Linked DNA regions of Homo sapiens: region 2 is linked to region 1. Evidence: fine-mapped expression QTL. A gene starts in region 1. The other region holds a variant in brackets. All regions are shown on one strand. Distances are between the middles of the regions.

Region 1 (2,905 bases):
CTGCCTAACAACCTAAATTCCCAGATTTATCTCATGAAATGTGATTTCTCATACAAACAAAAGTTGTGAGAACTCCATGAGCAAGACCAGCTGCTTGTGGGGACTGCCAAATTTTAAACTGTTATTTGAACAGCAAAAAGACCAGGCAAACATCCGAGAGACAGACCTAACTGCAGATAAGTCTTGTAATCTTGTTCACTATAGTCAAAACAGAATGGATTGCTTATTCTGTTACCCTATTGGTATTGCTCACATTTTAAAATTTAGGTGCTGGGCTCAAGAATGATAATTTTATTATTAAGCTTCAAGAGTCACATTGTATTGTATGCATTGAATATCACGAAATCGAAAACACTGAAAAGCTAGCGTTTACATTCTTGGATCATACCCCCAAAGGCCAAGGATTCCCACTGGCCGCTTGCAGCAGGGCTGTCTCCTGTGAAGGCAAGAGACAAACGAGGAGCGTTATGACACTTTGCTCCCAGGACTTTGGCGCACAGTTCCCATGAGTCCAGGTCCGTCCAGTCAACATCCTGAAGCCAGGACTGGCAGGTCCTGACCCTCCCTTTTTGCACCCGTAAGGGGAAGGGCCCGGGAATCTGGACCTTGTCTAGAGTCCCGGCGCCAGTACCAGTTCGGAGGGCATCCTGGAGGTTGTTACTAACCCGAGCCTCTTCCAGGCTTCCCAGGCACCAGGGTTGCTAACAGCTCCACGGGGGCGAATAATTTTGTTTATTTTGTTAACTGTGGTTATCTCCAACACTCAGTTCAGACCTGAGCCGGGCAAAGTCTCACCTTGTCTCCTGGTCACTTCCCTGCTTGTTTGTTTCTTCCTAACTCCCAAGTGTCTTTCGCCCAGTTCATCCCCACCTCAGCAGCCCAAGGCTCGGCGGGGACGGTCGGGGTTCGAAGCCTGCAGCTAAACTTAGAGGGTTCAGGCTTTGCTGGGAGGCCTCCCTGTGCTCAGAAGAGCCGGGGGTAAGCTGGGCGGTCGCCTTGGGTGCAGACAGAGGCGCAGGGCCTCGGCCTCCAAGAAAATTCCCAAACCGAGAGGCTGAGCTTCGCGTCTGTAGTTACTGAGCAGGAGCTTCTGGGCGGAACTTCTAAGGGCCCCGCCCGCCCCGTCTGCCCTGACCCTCGCCCGGACTCGCCTCGCCCACGTCCCGTTTCGCTTCGCCCCAGCTCCGTCTCGCCCCGCCCCCGTCCCGCCCGGTTGCGGAGGCGCGGGGCGCCCCCGGGTGGCCGCGGGCAGTGCTGCTCCTGGCCGGTGGAGGCGGCGGCTGCGGCAGCGGAAGGGGAAGCGCTGAGGCGGTGGGGCCCACAGCCATGGCGGAGCCTGTGCAGGAGGAGCTCTCGGTCCTGGCCGCGATTTTCTGCAGGCCCCACGAGTGGGAGGTGCTGAGCCGCTCAGGTGACTACCCGCGCGCGGGAGGGACAGGGCGCCCTCAGGGGCCACCCGCGTTCGCTTTGCGTCTCCTCCCCACCACGGAGCCTGGGCACCCCGCCTGGGCCCACGTATGGGGACCGGGTTAGTTGAATGATGGAATGACACGCCCGGAGGCCGGAGTGGTGTCGCAGCGGGCGGGAGTGTGAGGCGACCCCAGAAACACTAAGAGAGCGGCGCGGCCCACTGGGGCCTCTGCCGCCGGTCCCGCTCCCGGAGCCGGGGGCCCCTGCGTGCGCACCCCCAGGCCCTCCCCCAGCCTCCCACCCCTCAGATCTCACCCTATAAAGAAGCCTGTGCTGACGCCCCCTCGTTGTTCTGTGTCCTTCCTAAGCACTATGCCCTAGGCCCCCCCGAGAGCACTCCCCGGTTCTAACTCTACACGGGTATTTGTAGGTCTTAAGTTGCAGGAGGGCAGGGTCTGTTTGGTAATGACTCCAGGCACCTGGTAGGTAGTAGGTAAATGTTTGTTGACTGAACTTTTTCATTTATCCAGTGCTCAACCTCAACTTTATCTGCATTCTATTTCCAAGTTGATTGCTTTTCTGATACTTTTTTTTTTTTAGGTGGAGTCTCTCTTGTTGCCCTGGCTGGAGTGCAGTGGATCCATCTGGACTCACTGCAGCCTCCGCCTCCCGAGTAGCTGGGATCACAGGCGCGTGCCACCATGCCTGGCTGAATTTTATTTATTTTATTTTATTTATTTTTTATTTTTTAAGACGGAGTCTTGCTTTGTCGCCTAGGCTGGAGTGCAGTGGCGCGATCTCGGGTCACTGCAACCTCCGCCTCCCGGGTTCACGCCATTCTCCTGCCTCAGCCTCCCGAGTAGCTGGGACTACAGGCGCCCACCACCACGCCCGGCTAATTTTTTGTATTTTTTTTTTTAGTAGAGACAGGGTTTCACCGTGTTAGCCAGGATGGTCTCGATCTCCGGACCTCGTGGTCCGCCCGCCTCGGCCTCCGAAAGTGCTGGGATTACAGGCGTGAGCCACTGCGCCCGGCCTTTTTTTTTTTTTTTTTTTTTTTTTGAGACAGAGTCTTGTTCTGTCCCCCAGGCTGGAGTGCAGTGGCGCGATCTCGGCTCACTGCAAGCTCCACCTCCTGGGTTCACACCATTCTCCTGCCTCAGCCTCCCGAGTAGCTGGCACTACAGGCGCCTGCCACCATGACTGGCTAATTTTTTGTATTTTTAGTAGAGACGGGGTTTCACCATGTTGGCCAGGCTGGTCTCAATCTCCTGACCTCGTGATCCGCGCGTCTCGGCCTCCCAAGGTGCTGGGATTACAGGCGTGAGCCACAGGTGCCTGGCCTTCTGATACTTTTTTTTAAACAAGCTCTTGAGGGCTTTATTAGTCATTTAGCCCACATTTATTGAATCCCTGCTGCCTACAGACTTTGTCAGGGTTTCAGAGACACCGCTACCCATGGCCTCTAGGAGCTTACAGTGTAGAGAGGTTCTTT
Region 2 (2,905 bases), 50 kb before region 1:
TTCATTCAAGAAGAAAAGAATCAACATAGGATTTTGAAAAGTGAAATAAACATGCTATGGGAAAGAGAAAGTATAGGATCAAAGAGTATGTCTTAGGGGTAGGGTGGATAGATGTAGAGGATGTTGAGTGTCTGGGAGAGCTGATTGAACTTGACCCAGTAGACAGTGAGATTATAGTGGAGAAAGACATTCTGGAAAGAGCACTGAGTGGTTATAACTTTTGATATTTGTAGGATAGATTGTAACACTGGAGACAAAAGTTTGGGTTAGGTTACCCAGTTCTTAGTTGTGTGAATGGACAGTGTAATTTTATTAGTTCCGAAAGTAAATAAGAGTCCATATTAAGCTGTGGGACTAGAGAGATGACAAAATAGAGATTTTGAAGAAATGAAATGAAATTGGCAATGAACGGATAAAAAATTAGAGAATACGGACAAGTTTAAGACAAATCCTATATTGGACCCAGAGAAATGTGCCCATCAAAAGTGACAGAGAATTAGGAAGACTGAGAGGGAAGGTGACGAATTTAGTGCGGAGATATTGGATAAGAGGACAAACAGAGCATCTGAGTGGAAATTTAGTGAGAGCTCGAGAGAGGAATGTTGGGATGATCAGAATAAGGTGATATTTTAACCTGTGAGAAAAGATATATTTAGAAGATTAGAGTTAAATGTTTAAGACTGGAAAATCAGCCAGGTGTGGTGGCTCACGCCTGTAATCCCAGCATTTTGGGAGGCCGAGGCGAGCAGATCACAAGGTCAGGAGGAGATCGAGACCATTCTGGCCAACATGGTGAAACCCCGTCTCTACTAAAAGTACAAAAAAGAATTAGCTGGGTGTGGTGGCGCGTAGTCCCGGCTACTCAGGAGGCTGAGGCAGGAGAATCGCTTGAATCTGGGAGGCGGAGATTGCAGTGAGCCGAGATCGCACCACTGCACTCCAGCCTGGCGACAGAGCAAGACTGTCTCAAAAAACAACAACATAAAAAACAAAAACAAAAAAAACAAAAAAACAAGATTGGAGAATCAGAGAAAGAAGAGTAGATATAATGAAGGAATAATTTAGGAGTAGTAGGGGAACCAAAATAATATGAAGCTGGAGGGAAACTTGTCTAAAATTCAGTTCTTAAATTCCTAACCTTCCAGGGTTAATGTTTATTAAATACAAATGTTTACATGCCTGAAGAAATTACATTTGCAACTAAGATGTAAGTAGAGTCAGCTTACAGCCCAGTCCCTTCACAGAGTTCCAGAAACAGTACAGCATCCAAATCCTTATTGGAGTTTTTCCAAGGATGTCAACAAAGATCCAGTTTGTTACTCACAACAGCACTTCTTAAAATTCTCTTCATTCCTCTTGGACTCACAATATCTTGACCCCACAGCTTTCCTAAGGCTCTCTCAAACTTCTGACTCTCAACTCCTCTAAAACTCAACAAACCAGTGCCATCAAGGATCAATTATTTGTCCCTGTCCTCTTTTCTCA[CT/C]TTTTTTTTTTCTGTGCCTGCAAATAGCCCTCCATCCTCTTTCCAAATGTAAATGTGAATTAGAGCAAATAATTCCTAGTTTTTACACTTTTTCTAGTTTTTACACAATTTTTAGTGAGTACGATACCTCTACACAATTAACTCCCAGTAAACTTAATGGGAAGGTTCAAGTTCCTTTAGAAGGGTAGGAGGAGGAATAATTGCTAAATGACCAAAGTTAGGATTTTCTCTCTGGAGTGAAGGGAGGATTGTATTAATAAATACATACAATTTGCTGTCTTTTATGCCTGTCTTAGTAATAACAGTAAATGGTGGGTAAAAGAAAGTGTTGCTGTTCTTCTTTCCTTCCTTCCCACATGCATGTTTTCCTCCCTTCCCCTCTTTCCTCTCAGATTCAGTACATACCTTCACAAACTGTTAGTCTTTATTTGCTAGAATGAAAGAATGTTCTAATTAGGTAAGAAGAGGTGGATTCCAACAAAATAAGTGATCTTTCTGCCATGGAAGAGGGAGGTAAGGAGGACAGTTATGTAAATATTATTTCACCTTGAGTTAATATTTGGGTTCTTTCCTTTGAAAGAAACTGGTTTAAAGACCAGGCACTGGTTAGATGGAAAAATTGGCAGAAGCTAACACTATGGTTATGAGGAAGCTATGGGTGACCAATTTCTTTTTTTTTTTCTTTTTTTTTAAATTATACTTTAAGTTTTAGGGTACATGTGCACATATGTAACTGACTAATTTCTTTTGTAGAGTTGCAGTCATATCGTCTTGGGTTTGGGAGTGTAGTAAGAATGTCTGTGAATATGTCTGACTCTCCTTTCAAAAAACTGGCAAAGAAGAGAAGCAGTGGAGGGGAGGTTTTTGGATTAGCAGGAATTGAGCACGTTGGTAAAAGAAGAATCAATTTATAGAAGGGGAACTTGGTAGAACAAGGGAAGGCAGGGTAGTTTATTGAATAAATCCTAGAAGATGAGGACTCTCCTCTGAGTTGAAAGGTAAAGGTGCCTGAGAAGAAGTTTTGAGATCTTGGGGTCAGAGTGGAAGGAATTCATGGTTGATGGACTCTAATGCAGTTGACTCCCGAACAACATGGGTTTGAACTGTATGAGTCCACTGACACATCTATTTTTTTCAATAAAATTTGCACTAAGTGTGCCTGCCTTTCCTTCCAACTTCGTCACCTCTTCCACCTCTGCCACCTTTGCGACAGCAAGTCCAACTCCTTCTCTTACTCAAGGCTAGTTAACGTGAAGACGACGAGAATGAAGACCTTTACAAAGATCCACTTTCACTTAATAGTACATATATTTTCTTTTCTTTATGATTTTCTTTTCTCTAGAAAATAACGTTTTTCTCTAGCTTTATTATAAGAATATAGTATATAATGCAAATAACATAAAATAATGTTAATTGACT

Which allele goes with the higher level. Alleles are on the strand shown, and positions count from the first base shown. SD is a standard deviation of normalised expression in the study named.
For the expression in lymphoblastoid cells of the gene that starts at base 1,306 in region 1, CT is the high allele of the variant in region 2 and C is the other (large effect, 0.94 SD a copy in GENCORD).

Evidence for each region. PIP is the estimated chance that this variant, and not a neighbour inherited with it, causes the effect.
Region 2: its variant is fine-mapped to the expression of RWDD3 in lymphoblastoid cells (GENCORD, PIP 0.95). The same link has a PIP of 0.9 or more in T cells and iPS cells.

The regions. Positions count from the first base shown.
Region 1 is chr1:95,232,905-95,235,809 of GRCh38, forward strand. It overlaps RWDD3 (RWD domain containing 3), which reads left to right and starts at 1,306. Exons shown (of 4, transcript NM_015485.5): 1 at 1,306-1,411. The coding sequence starts at 1,327. The region is part of intron 7 of TLCD4-RWDD3 (TLCD4-RWDD3 readthrough); the gene reads left to right. It overlaps RWDD3-DT (RWDD3 divergent transcript), which reads right to left and starts at 1,078. Exons shown (of 4, transcript NR_125949.1): 1 at 796-1,078. RefSeq lists silencers at 1,047-1,376, 1,587-1,766.
Region 2 is chr1:95,182,867-95,185,771 of GRCh38, forward strand. All of the region lies in intron 6 of TLCD4 (TLC domain containing 4), which reads left to right. All of the region lies in intron 6 of TLCD4-RWDD3 (TLCD4-RWDD3 readthrough), which reads left to right. The region is part of intron 3 of RWDD3-DT (RWDD3 divergent transcript); the gene reads right to left. Among named protein-coding and RNA genes, the nearest start is that of RWDD3-DT, 50 kb to the right of the region's middle. The variant CT/C (reference allele first, on the strand shown) is at 1,486.